7 linked regions of the Homo sapiens genome follow. The gene in region 5 interacts genetically with the main gene of each other region. Each region holds a gene or a part of one and is shown on either strand. Other genes may lie near its edges. The genes, in order: POLR2B, CACTIN, SPDL1, ADPRM, XPO1, PSMD1 and ASCC3.

Region 1 (3,500 bases), on a different chromosome or scaffold from region 5:
TCTCCCACGTTCAAGCAATTCTCCTGTCTCAGCCTCCCTAGTAGCTGGGACTACAGGTGCCTGGCACCACACCCGGCTAATTTTTGTACTTTACTAGTAGAGACGGGGTTTCACCATATTGGCCAGGCTGGTCTCAAACTCTTGAGCTCAGGTGATCTGCCCGCCTCGGCCTCCCAAAGTGCTAAAATTATAGGCATGAGCCATCGCACCGGCCACACCAAATATTTCCTTGCTGAAATGACTAAGCACCTTTTCTCTTCTAAGAGAGTTCTTCATAGTAAATTTAAGTCTCTTCCATCTTTTCTACTAAGCTCTGATAACTAGGTGTTAGAGATCTACTCCTCTTTTAGTACTTCTGTTACTGGCACGTTCAATTTGCTATGTTATATTGTTATCTGGCTTGTTATACAAAGACCATGAAGAAAAAATGACCCAACAAGCCAGGTGCAGTGGCTCATGCCTATAATCTCAGCACTCTGGGAGGCTGAAGCAGGTGGATCACTTGAGGTCAGGAGTTGGAGATCGGCCTGGCCAACATGTGAAACACCATCTCTACTAAAAATACAAAAAAATTAGCCAAGCATGGTGGTGGGCACCTATAGACCCTGTAAAAAAGAAAAAAATGACCCAAGAATAAAAAAGAAACTTAATGTCCCCCTTTCCAGCACAGCCCTAGAAGAGCCAATCACTTTCATTCTTAACAGCAAAATTCTGTACAGCATGTCCAACTAAAATGGAAATAACAGACCAGCACTTAGGAGATAAGCTACACAGAAGAGAAACTGATCAGGCTAGAAACAATGAACTCTCCCTGTGTCTAGCTCTATTTTGGGGGCTTTCCCTACCTCACTTTGTTTCTCAGTTTTCCCTGTCTCTCAAAGTCCAATATGTTCCAACAGCTGCCTCTCAACTTCTCTAAAACTGGGACAGTCATTATTTTGGACTACATCCTTCTTATAATCACTCATGTAAAACCAAATTATAAAATTATACCCTTAGTATGATTTTAACAATGCTAAAAAACCTGCATATATGTGAGCAAAAGCTACAAGAAACTTAGTAAAGATAGCTGCTATGTTTGGGTGATTTTCCTTTCTTATCTCATATGGTTATAATAATGTACTTCATGCAATATATAAAATCAGATGAAAATTCCTTCAAACATTTTTTATTATTTTTACACTGTGAGAGAAAAAAGCGGGGTTATCTATCTAAAGCAATGTGACCATCTCTGGCTCACTTCTCTTATTTGTTCATATTTCAGAGTCCTCTCTTCCCAGCTATTCAATACCTACTATGTGAATAAGGATGGGATAACTTGCAAAAAAACACACCTCTTCATTAGAGAAAATAAATCAGAAAGTGATTGACGGTGCTGTAAGTACTTTGCTAAAAGCTCCAACTGACTTTTTTTAACCTTTAAGCCAGGTAAGAGAAGGGCTAAAATTTCAAACCAATACGCTTCTTGTACCTGTGTAACTATTAGAACTATCTTACCGGTTCTTCAACTTCTCCACTAGCATGCTGAGCTTCAGCCTGTAGGTCTATAGGAGGAGCGTCTTCCACAATTCTTTGAACAGACATCTGAATAAACTCATCAAAAGAATCCAGCTGTTGTCTAACCAAGCCTTTCTCGTCAAAATAGGAACTGGGAAAATATTTGAGTTCAGTCAGTTGCAACTCAGTGATAATTTCTAGCATAATTCCCCATTTTCATTATTTCCCCATTTTCATTATTCAAGAAACAGTCATAAAATACCAACCATTATATGTCAACCACTAAACAAGACACTATGAGGTATCTTAAAAAGGATGAAACCGGGCATATTTTCTTTGTAGAACTTATTATTTGGGGAAAAGCAGCTTATATTTGGGGGTAAAATACTTAAAGCACAATATAAGAACTATAAGGATCCCAGCTCCTGGGAGGCCAAGGCAGGAGGATTGCTTGAGTTCAGCCTGGGCAACGCAATGAGACCTCATTTCAACAAATAAGAAAAAAATTAGCCAGGCATGGTGGCATGTGCCTATAGTCCCACATATTCAAGAGGATGAGGTAGGGGGATCACTTGAGCCCAGGAGTTTGAGGCTGCATTGAGTCATGATTGCATCATTGCACTCCAGCCTAGGAGACAGCGAAACCCTATCTCAAAGAAAAAAAAAAACTTTATGCCCTTTATGGACAAATTTTATTCCACCTCTTTGAAGTACTTCTTGACAAATATGTCAGGAGAGAAAACTAAAGAAAAGTCAAAGATAACAATAAGAACTTTCATTTGAATAGGACGGAGGGTAGTGATATTAATGACTAAAATAATGCATGAGAATGCCAACTTTAGGTTATAGATCATTAGTTCTATTTTGAATTCTTAAAGGTAGGATAAGAAGAATAAGTCTTTACATAAAAATACTCAGCAAAAGACTGGTGATAAAAATGCAGCATGGCTGAGAGAGCTGCAATCTAAAAAGCAGACATCATATTTATAAGGAACAGATACTTTTCAGGTGAGGGGTGGGGAAAGACATACAGAGACAAGTAGATACACGTGCAAGAGGATCTCAACAGATCACTCCCTATTACCATCCAGGGACAGCTGCAAAGCTGGGCATCACAGAGGCTGGAGGATGTAGCACAACCCTCAAGATTATCCCATCACCCTTCAGCAGTAGGAAGTGCCCCACCACACCTCCACGTCTCCACTCCTATATCTTGTGACCTCTGTCATCTTATATCTGTGAGACCTTCTTAGCTTCTACTCCCCAACTACTGACTCCCCCATCTTCACATCAATTTTCTAAGACAATATGCAGAGTCCAACTAATCATCAGCCTCCCATTTTGGCTTCATCAGGTCACCTCGCACATCAGTGACAGGCCAACAAATTGGCCCCACCCTGATCCAGTCAAGTATGGCCACCAAAATTAGAAGTTAGGTCCTATGGTAGAAAACACAGCAGACAATCACACATGTGTAAGGTATGACCTAAATAACAGTTGGGGCAATTTATTTCAGTAGAGACTGTCACATAATGGGAAAGAAATTTCTCACAACCATGTGGATTAGCCATTGATATTGTAAGAAAAACATGGCATTGCCTGTAATATACATAGCCATGGTTTTTTATAGGCAATTTAAGATGAATAGCTTCTAAACTATAGATAAGTTTCATTACCCCAGGAAGCTGAACTATAGCTACTTTACCCAAAATCATTAGAATGGTGCTTAAACACCTAAACTATATAAATATTTCATATTTATGATCTCTACTCTGTTTATTTTACCTGAAGTCATCTTATGAAGTTACTTGTGATATTAACTAATATCACATTCACAAGATCACTTGATATTAAAAAGTAAAAAAAAATCAAAATTCATTTCTCAATAGCCAAAGTATCTACAGTCAATTTAAACTTAAAAATCAAATAATTTATTTTGTAACAAATGATAAATGCTATGACAGTTCACAATAGAGTATTTTATCCTTGAGCAATCTACCACA
Region 2 (3,323 bases), on a different chromosome or scaffold from region 5:
GGGCTGGGAGGTGACCAGTGCCCCAGGGGAGTGCAGGATCTGCCTTGCACCTCTGCCTACTGCAGTGAGGACATTTGGGGAGGCTCATCCTGGGCACTGAAGCACATTGGGCAGCATCCCTGGCCTCCACTCACTCCACGCCAGGAGCAGCCCCAAGGTGGGACCACCACGAATGCCCCCAGGCATGGCCAAGCGCTGCCCCCATGAGAGCCTGGGCCCAGGCCAGCAGCTGTGTCCACCCTTGTACCCTCCCTCCTGTCGTCTGGGAAATGGACTGTCACCCCCACTGTGGGAGGCAAGGCAGAGGGGTGGGGGGCAAAGACAGATCCGGGCACTAACACAGCTCCCAAGGGACCACCGGGCCCCAGTTGGGTGCCGTGTTGTTTCCCAGGCTCTTCCCTTGGGACAAATGCGCTGTGTCACAAATGCCAGCAGCAACTAGGGCAGCGGGTGTGGGGCGTCGGACACGTTACACTCTCTGCATTTCTGCAAACCTAAGATTATTCTAAAATACAACGTTTATTAAAAAAACATGCGATCTTGCCAATAGGCCAATTCCATGAGAACAAAAGATTTTTTTTCCCACCTACAAGTCTTTTTAGAGAAACAAACGGAACTATTTCCAGATGAGGCGGGGTGTCTGGGAGGGGCTGTGGGTGGTCTGGGGCTGGTGACTGGTGAGGTTGGGTGGCCCTCTGGGGGTCCGGGAGGCACTTTCCGTTTTGCTTCTGTTGGAGATGTTCCCGTCGGATGCTGAAGAACAAGCCTGCCGGCTGGGCCACTCCGACCTGGGCTGTGGCACCCGTGTGGCCCTCGGCCCTCCTGGCCTGAGAAAGGGGAGTGAGAAGGAGCCACTGTCCTGATATGGGCAAAACTCGGGGTCACTGGTCTCATGCTCCAAGGCCCCGTGAGCAGGCCAGGTGGGGGGATCCCTGGGGGAAGCCCCTCACCCTTCTCCAACCCCCAGCCTTCGGGGAGCCCCTGCCCTCCAGGCCCTGTGCTCAGAGGTGGGGGGAGGACGGCTCAGTGACTTTTGGTTCCCACGACCTTGACAGAGACAGGGACCTCGACGCATCCTCCATACCCGCTGCGGGGAAATGGACCCCACCAGCCAGCACGGGGTGAGTTGGGGGCCAGTCCCTGCAGAGTGTGGGTGTCCACAGAGGGTCTCTTCTGCAGTGGCGGATCGGGCGCCAGCAGGGTCCCGGCCTCAGTGCTGCCTGTGCGGGCGAGGGTGGCCTGTGGGCAGGGCTGGAGCTGCCCCACAGCCGCGGGCTCTGCCTCACGCCCAGTGGGTGCCCCGTGATGTGGCAGGGCTGGCCTTGAGTTTCCTGCTTCTCACGAGCCTGGCACCGCCAAGCCCAGGCCCCTCTGGCCCATCTCCACAACACCCTGTGTGGCCGCCACTTGGGGCAGGCCCTGTGGGCCCCACCCAGCCTGGCTGAGGGGCGGTGGAGAGTGTCCGCCTGGACGGTGAGGTCAGCTGGCGGCTGCTGGCCACCCTCGTGCTCGAAAGATGCCCCTAGCGCCCCCTCCGTTGCATCAGGACCCTAGGCCAGCCTGTCCCAGTGTCTCCTCAGCTCACCATGGCAGGCTCAATGGTGACCCCCCTTTTATATAGGAGGAAACTGAGGCCTGGCGAAAGAAAGATGCGGCCTGAGGTGGGACGTGAACCCGCGGCCCTGCAGCCCAGACAGCGGCCCCGGAGTGACCACCAGCTTCACCGAAGCCCCTTTACTGTGCCCCCGAGGACACCTGCCTGCCGTTCCCCAGGGCCGTCACCGCCGATAGCGGTAGCGCTTGAAGTGAAACCACAGCTGGAAGATGCCGTTGGCAAACTGGCAGCGGAAGCCGTGGCGGTGCGAGTATTCCCACTCGCGGTTGACGATCTTGAAAGCGATGTCCTCGTAGGGCGGCCCCGCGTGGAAGCGCAGGATGGCGAAATCCTTGTTGTCGGCGCAGGCCTCCAGGAAGTACTCGGGCGTGGAGCGCTTGTCGATGAGGTCGGGGTAGAAGATGTTGAACTTGTATCCCTGCACGATCTTGGGCGGTGGGTTGTCAAAGTCGTAGTGCGTCTGGTTGTACTTGTTCCACTCGAAGCCCGTGTGCACGCGGTTGAAGAAGCGCGGCTTGCGTGGCCGGTACTTGTCGGCCCACAGGTAGGCCTTGCCGGTGAGTGGCATCTCCACGCTGAACTGCGCCTCGTCCTGGCCCATGCCCTCCTTGGCCCGCCGGAAGAAGATGTCCTCGGCGCTCTCGCTGGCGTCTCCTGCGGGCGGGACGGCGTTCACCCGGGCCTCGGCCTCCCCCTGGGTCCTGGCCTCCCTCCTAGCCTCTCTGGCAGGGGCGGCCGCTGGTGCCTCCCGCAAAAGGAAAACAGGCTGGGGCGAGCTAAGGCACATGGGGAGGGGACAGGGCCTGGGCGACCCGGAGACCCACACCATCCGCCCCGAGCCCCGGACCTTGGTCTTCATGTCTATCGTCCTCCTGGGTGGGGACCAAGCGCAGCGCGCTTCCCCGCCGAGCGACAGGAGAACCTGGTGGTTAGGGCCTGGCTGCGGGATCCAGCCCCACGCATGACCCCCGAGGGGGTCCTGGCCCAGGGGTTTTCTGAAGCCAGTATTTTCTCCTCTGTCTTAGGACGGAGGCTGCCCAGGGAGTGCTCGGACAGCGGCCGGTAAAAGCTTCCACCACCTGTGGCCCCAAGGCCAGTGGGCCAGCAAGCCCAGGATGAATGAAGGAACGCCCCAGTGCGCGTGCAGGTGACGGAATGCACGCTCAGAGACCCGGGGGAGAAGCAGCAAGCAGCTCCCCACTGACGCCAGCGGCTTCGGCCGGGAAATGAGGCTGGAGAAGCCCCGCCCCCAGCTCGCCCCACTGGCCCCACCCCCTGGCCTCCAGCCCCGCCCTTACCCGTGACCTGGAGCTGCTGGCGCGAGAGCTGCAGGCGCTGCAGGTCCTCATCCGGTTCCAGCACGTGCGCGTCCAGTGGCAGCTCGTGCGCCGTGAGCAGCCGCGGGCTGTACCTGCCGGCGTCGTAGTCGTCCAGGCTCTGCTGGATCAGGTCCTCCTCCATGAGCACCGCCTCGCCCTCGCCCTCGCCCTCACCGTCCCCGTCGCCGTCGCCCTCTGTCGGGGTCGCGCCGTCCACCTCGGCCTCCGCGGGGCCGCCCTCCGAGGAGGGCCCGGGCGGGGTGGGCGCCGCGTCCTCAGGCTCCAGGCTGGGAGGAGAGAGCGTTGGAGGCGCGGAGGCTGCCCACGGCCCCTCCATCCTGCTCCGCGTCTGCATCGGCGTCCCCGGGGTGCCGGCCGGGCCTACCTGC
Region 3 (3,500 bases), on a different chromosome or scaffold from region 5:
TTCTTACACACACACACACACACACACACACACACACACAAATGCTTACACAAATACCATTCTCAACTAAAATAAACCAATGTTCCTTGAAGAAATGCTAATCCCAGAAGTGGGCCAGGTGAGCTAGGAAACCCTTGTTGTGCCATAGAGTAAGGAAATATTCAAGTAAGAGCACTTCGACTATCAAATCTGGGACAATTTGAGTATCAGAGTAAATAAAGCAAGCAATGGATTATAACTCATAGGATAAAATAAGAATCCATGAGGCTATACTGATATAAATGAATGAGTAAGTGAGGAAAAAGATTTTTCTTTTCTGTCCCTTTACTAAAATTCCAACTAATAAATATAGAAGAAGTGATGGAATTACCCATTTAGCAATCATCACAGAATTATGTTTCAGGCAAGAATCACCAATGGATGTTTAAGTATAAGGAGAAACAGCCATTTACTTAGTCTCAAAGTATCTCCCACAAGATATTTATTAATAATTTAAACTTAAAAAACAAACCAAATTTTAAGATATTCAAATCAAAATTTGGATGTGTGTTTTTTTAACTGTTATACATACCTTAAATTTCTCCAGATTTCTAATTTCACCTAAAAGATGTTTTATTTCACCATTCTTCTGCTCCAACATGGCAAGCAACCGTTCCTGCTGCTCAAATTCAGTTTGAGACCCTTTCATCTGTAGCAACGTGGCAATTTGTAACTAGAAAAATAAAATTACCCCCTCTAATAAAATTAAGTGAGAGAAAGATTCTGATAACTACTTTTTTGATACAATTCATAATTTGTACTATATTACTTTGAACTCATTTTGGAAACTAAATTAGCTATTTCTAATCTAATAATAAATTTTTTTGTAGACATAACATTTGAATACTTATTTTGACTACTTATGAATGATAACTGAAGTCTGTAATGTAATTATTTGTACTTTTGTGAAACATAAAACTGACTTGCATGGCTGTGGTCTGAAAGCACACCACTGAACTGGTAAGTAAGCCTGGCCAAACGCTGCAGACTGCTTATCATAAGCACTCGCTCTTATTAAGGTTCTGATGGGTTTCTCAAAATTTTTAATTAACTTTAATTAAGTGAGGAAAACTAAGCTACTGACAGCCACAAATGTTAGATTCACAAATGACGTTAAAAGCAAAGATAAAAGGCTATCTTAGTATACTGGGGTAATCTTCAATATACCATGTTTTAATTTTTTTAGAGCAGCACTCAACTTACCTCATTATACCTCCCCCACCCCAAATCTGGAGTTGTGAAGCTACCAGAGGGAAATTAAGTAGACTCTAAATCTAGCATTTCTTTCTGCCTTTGGAAATTTCTGGAGTTGAAAAGAGTGCCTATTAGTTTAAATATAGTTTTGAGTAAAACAATCAATGATATGAGGTTGCAGATGACTTTTAACATTTTAAAGGATATCCTTTTTGTTCCTGTTTCAGATTGGAGGCTAGGCCCACTTAGCCTAAGACTCAGAATGCTTCTAGTCTCTAAAGATAGTTTGGGACATATGCAACATTGGTAGATTAAAAGTAACCCCAACAAATACTGTAAGAAAACTAAAGTAAACGTGAGAAAATTTATAAAGAAATACTTCCCAGACAGGGGAGAGTCTCAGGAAATGAGGCAGCACAGTCTGGAAACCCTTAGAAATAAAATTCACAGCTGTTGTTCATTAAACACTCATTTGCCAAGTAGCAGGTTAAGTATTTTACTACACTTTCATTTAACTGTAGGACAATTCTAAGAGGGGGTTCTATCATCTTCACTTAATAGATGAGGTACTGTTGCTTTCAAAGTTAAAATACTTGTCCAAGGTCACAGAGCTAGCAAGTGACAAAACTATGATTCAAACCCAAATCCACCTAACTCCCAAATTTAATCATTAACCTTTCCCATTTCTTTGGCAAAGCCCATGATTCTGAATAAAAGGAAGGAAGCCTTTCCAGATTCCAATTACTACCTCAGTAGAGTGAGGCACAATGGATGAGGGATCAGGATTCTAAGGACTGTTACAATACTGAAATCTTTCTAATTCCCACATGTTTTTCTGCTACCTCTTATTTGGCTAGAATGACAACCAACAAAACCCGTAAAATTAAAAGGGTCTATGTGCTTGACTTGAGGAGCTACAAGGAAAGGGAACCCTGAATAATCCAAATTTCACTCCATAATAAGCCTTGGTGAAAGAGCAGAGGAATGGTGAGGCAGCGAGTTTCAGCTGAAGTAGGAACCCTAGGGCTATGCTTGGAAAGACATCAGGCCAAGAATAAGAAATAAATACTTTTCTTTCTTCTACTCCACAAAGAAAGATTTAAGTCAAAGCTAGTGAGTAACCATTAAAACAAACAATAATCATTGCTAAATATACTATTACTAAATATTTATTCCAAGATTTTTAAACTATAAATGAATCTTTTAATTTCAAAATTGATTTTTTGAAATCATGCAGTTCTAGAAACAACTATATAAGTACACTCCTTGCAGAAAAAGCTAGTTTCTTTGATGTATTCATACATGTAATGCTGACACAAAATTTGTTTAATAAACCTTTGATAGTGAAAGTTCTATACCTTCATTCTCTGCATCTGTTCTCTGTTAAATACATTTTGCTTCTTTAGTGACTGATACTTGACTTTCATACTGATGAGCTGACGTTCCATTGCTGCCCTTCGATCTTCCACCTACAAAATATTAACATGCTTAATTGTTCTGGTAGTAAATGAAAATACCAATTTAGTAGTTAGGATACTTATAAGTACCTCTGCAAACAAAGAGTTGCCTTTACTATTGGGATCCAAGGCTTGCTGGAGTGCCTGGTCCAACTGTACCTGAAGATCTTGATTTGCTACACGAGCTTTCTAAATTCAAAAGAAAACAATTTAGGCAACAGAGATTACATTAGCAAGAAAATAAGTTATGATAAATTGGAAAACATGATGTTACTGTAATCATAGTACCTCTAGGGCATTATAGTAAGAAACTGCTTCTTTCTCTCGCTCCTCTTTTTCCTCTTTAAGCCGGTCTACCTGGCGCATTAGGTTAGTAATAAGAAGTTCTAGCTGTTCTTGTCTGTATTGTAGTTCATTCACTTCTTCTTTGAGGGTGGTCTATTTAACAGGAATTGAAAAGGAGGAAATTCTCTTGAATAATCTTTCATTTGGCAGCTGCTCAGTTTATCTCAGTTGTGGTTCACATCCAAAATTAAAACTAAAGAACCAGTCAAAAGTTGTCAGGTACATTCTAAAATAATAGAAATTACTATTACTGTTAAATTTTTCAACAAGGAAACAAATGGCTTTAGAGACTGCCCTTTTTCCTCTATCAATTTCAGGCTTTAATTTTTAATTAACCTTAGCTTTCAATGAAAAAACCAAGTTCACATGCATTTCAACTTCCACTGAGCCAACGTTTTACACTGGGCTCTTACGATAAAATCTGGGATCAGAGTATATGCCTCTAAATTCTTCCAGACGTTTCAT
Region 4 (2,233 bases), on a different chromosome or scaffold from region 5:
AGAACAAGTATATGTTGGTTTAAGTCGCCAGGTTTGTGGGAATTTGTTACAGCAGCCATAGAAAGCTAACACTCCTTTATATCCCTATAGTGCCCATGTATTCAACAGGCATGCTTATTTCTTATAGTTGTTTAGGCCCTGAATCAAACTTTCTCCACACCTGAATAGTCCCCATTTGCCATCTAATGTTTCTACACATAAGCCTTAGCATATATGAAAACGGTGTTAAACATGTCCCATTAGTGTATAAAGGGAGTCAGTGTAAATTTATTTACCTGCTGTAGCTTCACACAGCAATGGCTGGTGGCCCAAACAGACCAGGCCAGGTGGCACATGGCTGCACTGCCACTTGGTCCTATGAATCCCAAGAGGACTACATGACTTTTCTGGAGGCCCTTCTTACAGGGATGGGAGTGCCACACGCTTACCCGTGAAATAACTATTGGTAATTTTGTTTACAAAATGGGAATACAAGCCTATAAAAATCCAAGTATAGGTGTTCTGAGCAGAAATTGTCCAAAGCTCATTTACACAGCAGGGTGAATAGAAAAAGCTTACCTGAGCTTATATGCTGAACTTGAAGTTACATAGTTAACACATGTGAATACAATCTCCTTGTAAAAAGTTAAAAAAAATCAGGTAGGGCCAAATAAGATCCCTCATGAGGACTATATGCCCCTTATGAGGACTATACACCCCTGCCTCAGTTTCCTCCCTGGTTTGTTTCTAACTTACAATGGATACATGATCCAAAATAACATTTCTGAGTATTTTATCAACCATCACACACTGAAACTATAAATACATTTTGTTATGCAAGCTGAATACTAAACAATGAGACAGAGGATTTTTATTTTTTTGTTTAGGAGGGACAAACACAAAGCTCATTTTCTATCAAGTTAAAATAAATTAGACTAACAATGGAAGGCTCTTTCTTTCTTGTAATTCATAATTCTATCTGGAACTCTGCCTCTCCCTTTCAACATCATTTTGTCAGGATAGACATGAACTGTGCCAAAGGCTTGGCTGTCTGGAGCTGTTTCAATAACTCCTTCTAGGTTGACGTGGTATACACCAAAAGGATCCTCAGAGTAGCCACCATCATGGGTGTGACCAGCAAAGAAACACACCACACACTCATGAGACCAAATGACTGCCAGGGCATCTCTGTAGTTCCAGGCCAGGCACACATTGTCAGAGGCGTCCGGGTAAATGGGAAGATGGCCTGTTAGTTAAAGAAAAGAAGAGTTATGAGCCAATTAAGAAATATCTCTTCTATAAAAATAAATGGCTAAAAGCTAGTACTCAGAAAAAGAAAAAAAAATTGCTATCTCATTATGCAAATGAACTGAGACCAGAGAGAATTCACACACAAGAAAACTAGGCCATCTACAGCCACATCTCTGGAGCATAGAAGAAGGGTAAGACAGTTCACATGAGGCGCGACAGGCTGCTGTAGAGGCAAAACCCTGAATCTCTGAGGCCTACGTCATCTCAAGTTGCCGAAACACCGAGGAAGATCAAGGGTGTCCTATGCAGGGCAGTCTGCAAAGGCAGCCTGAAACTGGGCAGATGCTGTGCTGGAATCCAATCCAATTGATTTCCTTAAATATGAATGTTATATACACAGAATGATGTAACACTAAATAAAAGAACAGGCTGGGTGTGGTGGCTCATGCCTGTAATCCCAACACTTTGGGAGGCCAAGGCAGCCGGATCACCTGAGGTCAGGAGTTCAAGACCAGCCTGGACAACATGGTGAAACCCTGTCTCTACTAAAAATACAAAAATTAGCCAGGCGTGGTGGTATGTGCCTGTAGTTCCAGCTACTCGGGAGGCTGAGGCAGAAGAACTGCTTGAACCCGGGAGGTGGAGGTTGCAGTGAGCCAAGATCACACCACCACACTTCAGCCTGGGTGACAAAGCGAGACTCCATCTCAAAAAATAAAAATGTAAATATAAATAAATAAACAAACAGTTTAGGCATGGGCCATGGATTATGTGTCATTGACATAAACAATGCCTCCGAACTGATTTATGGGACTTTAAACACTCATGAGATCAAGGTAGCCATACCCACTTTTCAGATGAAAAACTGAGTTAAAACAGGGAAGATTTATACTGGCATCCACAGGAGATACGTGGAAGTAGAGTTAGGAGAAGTTCTAATTTCTGACAGCAACACATCTATGATCAAGCCACGGTTCTCACTCTGAAGTACAGCTCACGTTGC
Region 5 (3,500 bases):
TTTCAAGATAGTATTATATTACCTGCTTTAGTTGCATCATTGTCAGAGTAAATAGTGTTACAAATTGTTCTTCATATTGGCTTACACTCACACCAGCAATCTCAGTGAGGCACTTCAGAGAGACATTTCGAAACATTGGAACATTCAGGAACTATTTAAAAGGGGGGAGGGAACCATAAAATTAATTGGCCTGATACACACTTTACTTAAAATTCACAATTAAAAGGAAAAAGGCTTTAACAATTAAATATAGGGGTAGATGTCAAAAACAGGCCAAGTGAATGAACATATTTTATCATGCAGATATACTGAGAGGGAATTTTATTGCCTACCTAGTATACAGTAAATGCTTTAGGAGCAAACTTTTTTTGTTTTTTTGAGACAGAGTCTCGCTCGCCCAGGCTGAAATGCAGGGGCTTGATCTCGGCTCACTGCAACCTCACCTCTTGGATTCAAGCGATTCTCCTGCCTCAGCCTCTCAAATAGCTGGGACTACACATGCATGCCACCACGCCCGGCTAATTTTTGTATTTTTAGTAGAGACAGGGTTTTGCCACGTTGGGCCAGGCTGGTCTCGATCTCCTGACCTCGTGATCCGCTCACCTCGACCTCCCAAAGTGCTGGGATTACAGGCGTGAGCCACAGCGCCCGGCCTAAACTGCTTTCTTTTGATGTGTCCTAAAATAACAAGGCTCCTTAACAACTTTCCTAGAATCTGTGATATGACTTTTAGGAATGTTATACTTTCTGTGTAATTACACAGGACCTAAAACTTGTGATTGCTTAGAATTTTGGGAAATGGTCAATGTATCTAAGAGTAATAAGAATATGGGAAAATTGGCTTATATATTCTATTGTTGAGAAGATAAACAGTTATCGTCTGGGGTTGGAAATCAGGGGGCATTAAAACCTTAAAATTAAACATACCTAATAATCTGGTGATTAAACATTAAAATATTTAAATAAATTAATGTTTGGACAATTGCATAATATCTTATGTCTGAGAATGTTCTCTGTAGGACTGTTGACAATAGAAAGGTTTTTACATAATTAAGCAATAAACTGATCATTCAAATACTATAAATCCATATTATCTTACCAAACTAAACTACGAAGTTGAAGAGGTCAAGTTATAATGTTCCAATTAGATACTTAATTTATTCATTATATCAGTCAAGAAAACATCTGAAAATATAATACAACCAACTGGTAACAGTGATTATCTCTGGATAAACCACTGTAGAACTTTACTTATTTTGAGACAGGGTCTCGCTCTGTTGCCCAGGCTGGAGTGCAGTGGCACGATCTTGGCTCACTGCACCTTCTGCCTCCTGAGTTTGAGATTCTCCTGCCACAGCCTCCCGAGTAGCTGGGACTACAGGCATACACCACCACGCCTGGCTGTTTTGTATTTTTAGTAGAGACCGGTTTCACCAACTTGCCCAGGCTAAACCATTATAGAACTTAAGCCATAACATGGTATCAATTTTAAATTATCAGTTAAAAGATGAACTTTTCATTTTTCAGAAATAGCACTTGACTTACCTCACTGTAACTTACTCAAACTAAAAGCAATATAATCAAATCCATTGTTCAAAATGAATTCATAAAATTACATGGTCTAAGTGGCAGAATCAGATTTGAAACTCACTTTAAATAATTTACTAGGTGTGAATATGGGAAATTTCTCCTGAGCAGCGTCCTCGTGTTAGAAACAAGGTTGAATAAGGTTTAGAATGCAGAGATGAGAGCTTTACATGTGAAAAGAATATATGTGGCTATCCGGTGACAAATAACTGAAATGTATTCACTGTACCTTATAAATCAATGTGCTGATTAATTTGGTCTCAAAAATATATCCCAGGGGAATCCAGTTCAGAAATCTGAGCAATGTTTCCAAGGTTGCATGTACAAGTGGAGCATTTTGAGAATTTTCCTATAACAAAACACACTTGTAAATAATTGCTTTCCTATTATTGTTTTTAAAAATGAAATTAAAAACACTTACCATTACAAACTGACACAGTTGAAATATCTGTGAGAATTCATTGCACATGCTAAAAAAAAAAACACACAAAAATATCAGATTTAGAAGACACAGAAATAAGTATCAGTTATCTATAATACTAATAAAAATGATTAAAGCCCAGTACAGTGGCTCATGCCTGTAATCGCAGAACTTTGGGAGGCCATGGCAGAAGGATTGTTTGAGACCAGCCTGGGCAACCCAAGGGGAAAAAGATTTCCTAATGACTACAACAAATGTTTAAAACTTAATGGAAGTATAACTATAGTTTATACCAGTTGCTTACTATTAGAGGCAAATCTAGTTTTCTGTTTTGTTTTAAAAAGAACACTATTGTTAACAATTGGGGAACTGAAAAGAAGCAGAGACAATAACTGATTTGAGGCCAGGCTCTGTGGCATGCACCTGCAGTCACAGCTATTTGGGAAACTGAGGCAAGAAAATCACCTCAATCCAGGAGGTGGGGGTTGTGGTGAGCCAAGATTGCGCTGCTGCACTCCACCCCAGGCAATAGAGCAAGACTTGTCTCAAAATAAAATAAAATAACTAATACGTATGTTTGGACACAAATCATTTGCTTAGAACCTATTAAACTAGTTACCATACAAAACAATTCCTGAAGTGTGTCTTGAACAATTCATTTTTCAACCTTCAGAGGTAAATTATTAGGCCCCGTCTAGGACTATTTCTTAATCTGCAGTTGAAAACCACTACAAGCAATTTAACATATTACTGATCATAGTTCCTTAAAATATCTACAATTTACATCCAAACTGCTTGAAATTGTTTGAGAAATCACTTTAAAATTCTAAAACATAATTATTACTTGCCTGTCTTTTAAATGCTTAGATTTGACTTGGGTTATCTGTCCACTAGAGAAATCAAATACTTCTTCACTCAAGAGTTTAAGAATCACCATATTATTTTGACAGAGACTTTCGCTGGTCCTACTTGCTCCAACAATATCACTGATAAAAGTTGGCCAATGTTTGGGCCATTCTTGTTTCAGTATCTAAAACAAGACATGAAATGTTAATCGCACTTCATTTCTCAAAGGCAAATAAAACAAACTTCAAAGAAATTATGTAATGGATAAAGGCAGGAGTAAGGATAAATCACTTTTCATTTTCTCCTCCTTTATTAAAGGAAGAAATGTGCCACCCTCTTCACCCTACTGGGTAGAAAACAAAACACAAAGTCTTTTATCTTAATCACCGCAGGACCCTTTTCAATTATCCTAATGAAAGGTCCAATCCGTCTAATGGGTCTGTCTGTGTATTAGTATCTGCCTGATAGATATGTAGAAATTATTCTAGGAGGCCTTGCGCGGTTGCTCATGCCTGTAATCCCAGCACTTTGTGGGGAGCCAGGGTGGGCAGATCACTTGAGGCCAGGAGTCTGAGAACAGCCTGGCCAGGCTGGGCGTGGTAGCTCGTGCCTGTAATCCCAGCACTTTGGGAGGCCGAGGTAGGAG
Region 6 (3,500 bases), about 170 Mb from region 5:
ATGAGAGCAAATTCATATCCAAGGTAGGCTACAGATCAAAAAAAAGGGAAGAGTTATATTGGACACAAGCCTCCAAGAACTAAAGATTCACTTGATGACAAGAGTAGTAAATTATTTCAGTAAATGTCCTGCTTAGTTTTCCCATTTATTCTTTGATTTATATATATTTATATATATATATATATATATATATATATATATATATATATATATATATATATATATGTAATACAGCTAGGAAATAGAATAGTGTTGTAGGACTGAGTTCTCTAGGGCTTGCATGTTTGTATGTCAGTAAGGGATTACAACAGTTTACCCTGCTCATTTCCCCAGGTTTCTACTGCTGTATTATCTATAACTGCCAAGGCTAAAAAGAAGGAAAAAGAAAAGGAAAAAAAGGAGGAGGAGAAAATGGAAGTGGTAGGTATAAATTGGTGGTCATATGGATTGAAGTATCTCTGTCTCTGTCATGGTCGAGATTCTTCCTTAGTTGAATATTATTCTACCTTGCTCTTGGCTTCCTTCAAACAATTATCCTGTTGCCAGCATGTAGAATCATCAAACTGTACTTGAAAGAGACTCGAAAATATATCCATTTGTGGGAAGAATAGAAGGGTACAAATCAGTAAAAAGTTCCTGGAGCAAATGACAACTAAAATAGGTTTTGAAGGGCAAAGTAGGTTTTTCACAGACAAGATGATGAGGTAGGAGAAAGAAAAACCCTTTCAAGCAAAGGGATTATCACTTGTTTAGGTAGACCTTTTTCTGATCTCTGCTGGTAGAAAAACCTTTTTAATCCTTTAAAACCAAGTCAAATACCATTCTCATTCCTAAGCAGAGTTACTTTTCCCTCCTCTGAGTCTGATAGCACTTTAGTTGTACTTCCATTACTACCGACCACTACCTCTTGTACCTTATAGCTGCTCAGTCAACTTCAGATGTTACTCAGTTCTGTGGAACAGAAATGAACTTCTGTTGAACTTTTTTTAAATTTTATTTTATAGGATGAGGCAGAGAAAAAGGAGGAAAAAGAGAAGAAAAAAGAACCTGAGCCAAACTTCCAGTTATTGGATAACCCAGCCCGAGTTATGCCTGCCCAGCTTAAGGTCCTAACCATGCCGGAGACCTGTAGATACCAGCCTTTCAAACCAGTAAGTTACCAGTGACTCTTAGCTGTATATACCAGTGGGATATTAATCCATAGGACAATAGAATATTGATAGAGAATGATAAATCTCCAAAGCATTGGAGCAAGCTCACTAGTTCTAAGAAATTATTTAACAAAAGAGAGAATGTTCTTTTCCATTTCATATAGATTTGGGAGAATTTTTCTTTTCCCTGTGTAACCCTACAAACTCCCGTCTTCTACCACAGACATACGACGTAGGAGTTCCTAATACAACAATTTGATTAGGAATATAGACTCTACAGCCAAGCATACAGGATTTGAATCTTGAGTATACTGCTCAGGCTAAGTGACCTTAGGCCAGGTACTAAATCTCTCTCTGCCTCAGTTTTCTTTATTATAAAACAGAGATTACCATCCCTGACTCAGAAATGAGGCACAGATTGAACAAGCACTGAGAACAAGACTTGGGACTGCTCAATAAGTATTGATTACTATGGTAATTACACCGTTGTCTTTTTTTTTTTTCTATTTCATTACACCATTGTCATAAATGCATTGCATTTTAGTTAGAAAAGGATCTTCATGGAATTTAATTTATTCCAAGACAGAGTGCTTCATGTTAAAAACAAATGCTTATCAGAAATATGAGTGTGATACTGCCTTTATCTTCCAGGTTCTTGTAGATAACTAGAGCGCCATCAGTAGACCCATCCAAGACATCCAGATGCTAGATCTGTCTAAAATGTCAGAGATTCGATTTCTAGATCCTTATCCTTATACAAGAGTAAACTTATTCTTATCAACCTGATGGTGGGTCAAAGGCAACTCCTATCTATAATTGTGAGTCGGGGTCTTAACCTGACTAATTTATCAGCTAGAAGAGATAAAGCCAAGGGATGCAAGATAGTGTATGTAGTGGTTTAGAGCTGGAATTTGGCATAACTGGGTTTTTATTTCTACTGTTAGCTGTGTGACTAAGACAAGTCATTTAATCTTTGTATTTCAGTTTCCTCATCTGTAAAATTGATATGGTAATGCTACCTACCTCCTGTTGATGTTGTGGAGATTAAATAGGTTGTTACATGTAAAGCACCTAAAACAATGGTAAATGCTAATCTGTAGCACTGCCTGATCTGTAGTAGTTGCTGTGTAGTGTTAAATGAATGGACAGAATCATCAATGGATACCTTTAATGCAGTCACTGTCTGATCTGCAACCTGGTTCATCTCGGTGGCGGTTTTACAGAGAACGTATTCTAACTGTGTCTGTAAACTTATCTTACCAGTAGCATGGGAATCCAGAACAGATGTATTAGGACACAACTAGAGCATACTCTAAGCACGTGAAATAACTAGTGTTTTTGATAATTATGAACTAAGACAGTGAGGCACGTGCTCAATGCCATGAGGCCATATGAGCACACTGTACACCACAGTAGAAAACTAAATGATTGCTAAGCCTTTGCTCAAATTAAGTCAGAGATAGCTATAACAGTTGGTCCACCTATGAATTAAAAGACTGCCTATGTCTGTGCAAGGAAGAAATGAGGAATCCTGTTGAAGGTATAGCCCTACACACACACACACACTCCTTCAAAGAGTGGGAGACTTTGTGTTCCAAAGTGTTTAAGGAAATTCCTGTCCAGTTGTTAGCTGACTACTAAGTTAAATGAGCATTGACTTTAGTGGACACACAAATCAGGGAATACAAACTTTATAGAATAGGAGAAAATATTTTCAAATCATTTATCTGATAAGACAGTTACATCTAGAACATACGAAAAGCTCCTCCAACTCAACAATAAAAAGACAACCTAATTTTAAAACAGGCAAATGATTTGAATAGACATTTCTCCAAAGAAGATGTACAGATGGGCAAATAAGCACATGAAAAGATGCTCAACATCATTACTCATTAGGAAATGCAAATCAAAACCATAACAGGTGCAGTGGTTCCCACTTACAGTCCCAGCTACATGGGAGGCCAAGGCAGGAGGATTGCTTGAGCCCAGTAGCTCGAGGCTGTAGTGCAATATGATTGTGCCTATGAACAGCCACTGGACACCAGCTTAGGCAACATAGCAAGATCCCATCTCTTAATTTAAAAAGAAACACAAAACCATAAGAAGATATCACATTCTACCCACCAGGATGGCTGTAATCAAAAAGACCGCACAGACAAGAATATGCAGAAATTGGAACCCTCATAGAGTAATAGTGGGAAAGTAAAGTTACAGCCACAGTGGAAAAAAAGAATTTGGCAGTTCCTCAAAAAGTTAAATGTAGTCTTATCATATGACCCGGCAATTCCATTCCATACCTAAGAGAAGAGAAAACTGTGCCCACACAAAAGCTTACACACTAACGCTCAT
Region 7 (3,500 bases), on a different chromosome or scaffold from region 5:
TTCTTTGCATGTAGTATTATAATACCTATGATATTTCAGTACAGTTACTTGTTGACATGTCTCCTCCTGCTAGACAATTAATTCTGAGAACAAGTTTGCTATCTTATTCATCCTTTTATGTTCAGTAAATAGCACTGTACCTAGCAATACAATAAGCATACAATAAATATATGACAAATGAAGCTATTATGAAAAAAATCTAGCACAAATACTCCCCTTCCAACAATCAGATTCAGTTACATACTTTAAAATTGTGGTGAAAGACTAAGAAATACAAACTTACTATAGATATTCAGAAGTGAAAGTAATGGTTTTATGGCTTACTAAGAAAATAAAATATCCATTAATTAGATATTTATAAATTTCAGTTTATTATAATCATAATTGGATAACTACTATGTATTCAATTATGATGAGCAAATATTAGTAAAATTTTCTTCGTAAATCACAATTTTTAAAACAATATTATGTTCAGAATGTTAGAGAAAATTTAATAGTGAGAACAGATCTGATAAAAATTAAACCAAGTGTAAAACATTCACAGTAAAAAGACTGATCACAGAATTAATGATATAATATCTTACTTCCAAACTAATGTTAGTTGGCATAACACCTATGGGTTAAGTCCTCCAATACCTACTTAGCTAATTCTCTAAATTAATTTTTCTCTGAAAAATACAGCTAGTATTTTTTCTGTATTTCCAATACTCAATGTGATTTAAAAATTCTTAATTCCAATAATAACGACAAAAATAATCACAGCTACCACATAATGATTATTTAACATGTTACTTACCATTTTGCATATATCACATTCAATCCTTATAACAATTATCTATCTTGATATTGGTGTCTCCTTGAGATAGCCCAACAAGAAAACTGAGCTTCTGAGAGATTAAGTTACCTAAAGTGTCACAACCAGTAAGTGGAAAGGGAAGAACAAACTGATTTCAAAGCCTGTCCTTTCTACAACAGTAGGCCATCCCTCTTAATCTTTCATGAAATATATTACTCATTCAATTTGTCCAGTATTAAAATTAAGTTGACATCAAACCAGCACTGTCCCAGTAACCAGAGCATGTGGACACCCAACTATTGTCTGCTTACTCCTCTGCTACACTCATTACACTTTCAGACCTCCTGTAACTATCCATTAGGAACGTATATACAGGCCTGCTATGTGAAACCATTTGGCTATAGATTCAACTACTATACAGAACATTAAAGAACTTTCTTTGCTAACCACCCATGTTTAAAAAACACTATTTCATTAGGATAGTTCACATTAATATAAAAAAATAAATCATTTCAACTATACCTCATCCTGAAGTTCATCACCACTTTTAATAGAAGCAAGCATATCATATAAAGTACAGCAAAGATCTTCTACTCTTGGCACTTCAGTCATTTCCTTCAAAGTTGAATTTAGGTACTTTTCAACTTCACACCACAAAAAGGAGCCATTTGTTTTTTCCACAGGCTTGAGTTCTGGGGTGCAAGCCTCCTGGAGATGTTCATTCAGAAACTTCTTATAATCTAGGCTTATAGTTTTCTGAGTTTCACCATTTATTGGCAGTTCGTCAAAGTGGTCCAAATCATGCATGTCAAATGAAAATGCTAAATTTTTACCAAAAAAAACCCTATCGCCATGTTCTTTTTCTGTCATCTGCACAAGAGCAGTAAGATCATCTTGACTAAAATGAGAAATAATTCGATTAGTAGCATTACAAGCTGCAGTGGCAGATGATGAAGGAAAGGGGCCAAACATCTGTTTGATAGCCTTTGTTTCCTTGTGACCAACAGAGTCCTTCAAGTGAAATGTCATGAAGAGAAATGCAGCCCCACTTTCAATTGCTTCTCTCCCATTATCAGTTCCAACTATTCAAAGACAAAAGAAACAGTATTAGCTCAATTGAATCATGGTTCAAGTTACGATCTTCCAAAAAATTACCACAAATATTCTCCTGAGTAAATCTAACAGTCAAATCATAGCAATAGACCAGGTGTAATGGCTCCATATAATCCCCACACTCTGGAAGGTCAAGGCAGGAAGATCACTTGAGTCTAGGAGTTCAAGACCAGCCTGGGCAATATGGTGAGAACCATCTCTACAAAAATTTTTAAAAATTAGCCAGGTATGGTGGTGTGCACCTGTAGTCCCAGCTACTCAGGAGGCTGAGGTGGAAGGATTGCTTGAGCCTGGAAGGTTGGGGCTGCAGCGAGCCATGATTGTGTCACTGTACTCAGCCTGGGCAACAGTGTGAGACCTTGTAAAAAAAACAACAAAAACATAACAATAAAGACAGATAGCCAATTTAAGGAGCAGGAACCAACCCATTCCTGAAGAACTATTTATTTCCCAAAGAACTATTTTAGGTAAATAAATCATTATCAGTAATTATTATGTATCTAAGTGCAGAAACTACCTAGTAACAATCCTTACAGCTTCTTTCTAAAAACAACTTGAGACACTAGCTAAAACTCACTTTAAAACTAATTTTAAAGATTGATTTGATGAGCTAGTTAAATAAACCAAAGTAAGGTACAGAAAACAATCTGAATTATAGACTTTTGGAGCTTCAAGGAAACCTCAAATATCTATAATTTTCTTTCCAATTTGTACCATAAACCTGAGATGGCAAGAAATACTTCTATAGTTCTCATTCAAAAACATTTAATACCATCAAGGATATTTATTAAGCTGAAGATAAAGTTAGTCATATTATAAAATAAAAAAGAAAGCTCCTGTTTAAAAGAGGCTAGAAGTAAATATAAGAAGAATCAGCCTCTAATTTATTTAAGGCATTTTCTCATATCCAATTTTCTCAAATAAAAAAAAGAATCTGTATTTCTGACATGGGTTTCAAAGAATATTCTTAGAGAAGAAAAGAAGAATTTAAATCTTCAAAAGGCCCCAAAAGCTATGTGACTTACCTAAATACTGTTAAAGTTAATAATGTAATGAATACTGGTATCTTTCTAAAAAACATGACTCTGCAGTTGCTCCCGCCTGTAATCCCAGCACTTTGGGAGGCCGAGGTGGGTGGATCACCTGAGGTCAGCAGTTCGAGAACAGCCTGGCCAACATGGTGAAATCCCGTCTTTACTAAAAATACAAAAATTAGCTGGGTGTGGTGCCACACACCTGTAATCCCAGCTACTCGAGAGGCTGAGGCAGGAGGACCGCTTGAACCTAGGAGGCGGAGGTTGCAGTGAGCAGAGATAGCATCGCTGTACTCCAGCCTGGGTGACAGAATTGAGACTCTATCAAAAAAAAAAAAAAAAAAAAAAGAAGGAAACATGACTCCAGTATCATTATTCACAAATCTTCCACAGCTTACTATAGCTTGATCCAAGCTCCTACACTGCCAGAAGCTGACCCCAGCATTTTATTTTCCAGTCTTATTGGCTATTATATATTTCCTGCTCCAGCCAAAAAGAATTTCTTCACCAAAAACCACGTTCTACCCCACTCTATGCCTATTTCTATATCATACTGA

The links.
Region 1: changes in XPO1 (region 5) and POLR2B together harm fitness less than expected from each alone (positive genetic interaction), as found in Homo sapiens cells (one large-scale study listed by BioGRID).
Region 2: changes in XPO1 (region 5) and CACTIN together harm fitness less than expected from each alone (positive genetic interaction), as found in Homo sapiens cells (one large-scale study listed by BioGRID).
Region 3: changes in XPO1 (region 5) and SPDL1 together harm fitness less than expected from each alone (positive genetic interaction), as found in Homo sapiens cells (one large-scale study listed by BioGRID).
Region 4: changes in XPO1 (region 5) and ADPRM together harm fitness more than expected from each alone (negative genetic interaction), as found in Homo sapiens cells (one large-scale study listed by BioGRID).
Region 6: changes in XPO1 (region 5) and PSMD1 together harm fitness more than expected from each alone (negative genetic interaction), as found in Homo sapiens cells (one large-scale study listed by BioGRID).
Region 7: changes in XPO1 (region 5) and ASCC3 together harm fitness less than expected from each alone (positive genetic interaction), as found in Homo sapiens cells (one large-scale study listed by BioGRID).

What each region holds. Positions count from the first base shown.
Region 1 is NC_000004.12:56,988,896-56,992,395, reverse strand, and holds part of POLR2B (DNA-directed RNA polymerase II subunit RPB2), read right to left. Parts: intron 1,649-3,500; coding exon 1,498-1,648; intron 1-1,497. UniProt on the Homo sapiens protein: Catalytic core component of RNA polymerase II (Pol II), a DNA-dependent RNA polymerase which synthesizes mRNA precursors and many functional non-coding RNAs using the four ribonucleoside triphosphates as substrates.
Region 2 is NC_000019.10:3,610,145-3,613,467, forward strand, and holds the end of CACTIN (splicing factor Cactin), read right to left. Parts: coding exon 3,320-3,323; exon of another isoform or gene 3,222-3,319; coding exon 2,914-3,221; exon of another isoform or gene 2,641-2,913; intron 2,270-2,640; coding exon 1,779-2,269; 3' UTR 501-1,778; downstream 1-500. UniProt on the Homo sapiens protein: Plays a role in pre-mRNA splicing by facilitating excision of a subset of introns. Required for the splicing of CDCA5/Sororin, a regulator of sister chromatid cohesion. Involved in the regulation of innate immune response.
Region 3 is NC_000005.10:169,593,773-169,597,272, reverse strand, and holds part of SPDL1 (protein Spindly), read right to left. Parts: intron 3,129-3,500; coding exon 2,979-3,128; intron 2,880-2,978; coding exon 2,781-2,879; intron 2,703-2,780; coding exon 2,592-2,702; intron 713-2,591; coding exon 572-712; intron 1-571. UniProt on the Homo sapiens protein: Required for the localization of dynein and dynactin to the mitotic kintochore.
Region 4 is NC_000017.11:10,709,826-10,712,058, reverse strand, and holds the end of ADPRM (manganese-dependent ADP-ribose/CDP-alcohol diphosphatase), read right to left. Parts: intron 1,226-2,233; coding exon 915-1,225; 3' UTR 501-914; downstream 1-500. UniProt on the Homo sapiens protein: Hydrolyzes ADP-ribose, IDP-ribose, CDP-glycerol, CDP-choline and CDP-ethanolamine, but not other non-reducing ADP-sugars or CDP-glucose.
Region 5 is NC_000002.12:61,496,857-61,500,356, forward strand, and holds part of XPO1 (exportin-1), read right to left. Parts: intron 3,039-3,500; coding exon 2,857-3,038; intron 2,058-2,856; coding exon 2,009-2,057; intron 1,937-2,008; coding exon 1,817-1,936; intron 152-1,816; coding exon 23-151; intron 1-22. UniProt on the Homo sapiens protein: Mediates the nuclear export of cellular proteins (cargos) bearing a leucine-rich nuclear export signal (NES) and of RNAs.
Region 6 is NC_000002.12:231,164,867-231,168,366, forward strand, and holds part of PSMD1 (26S proteasome non-ATPase regulatory subunit 1), read left to right. Parts: intron 1-333; coding exon 334-420; intron 421-1,004; coding exon 1,005-1,151; intron 1,152-3,500. UniProt on the Homo sapiens protein: Component of the 26S proteasome, a multiprotein complex involved in the ATP-dependent degradation of ubiquitinated proteins.
Region 7 is NC_000006.12:100,846,830-100,850,329, forward strand, and holds part of ASCC3 (activating signal cointegrator 1 complex subunit 3), read right to left. Parts: intron 1,879-3,500; coding exon 1,319-1,878; intron 1-1,318. UniProt on the Homo sapiens protein: ATPase involved both in DNA repair and rescue of stalled ribosomes. 3'-5' DNA helicase involved in repair of alkylated DNA: promotes DNA unwinding to generate single-stranded substrate needed for ALKBH3, enabling ALKBH3 to process alkylated N3-methylcytosine (3mC) within double-stranded regions.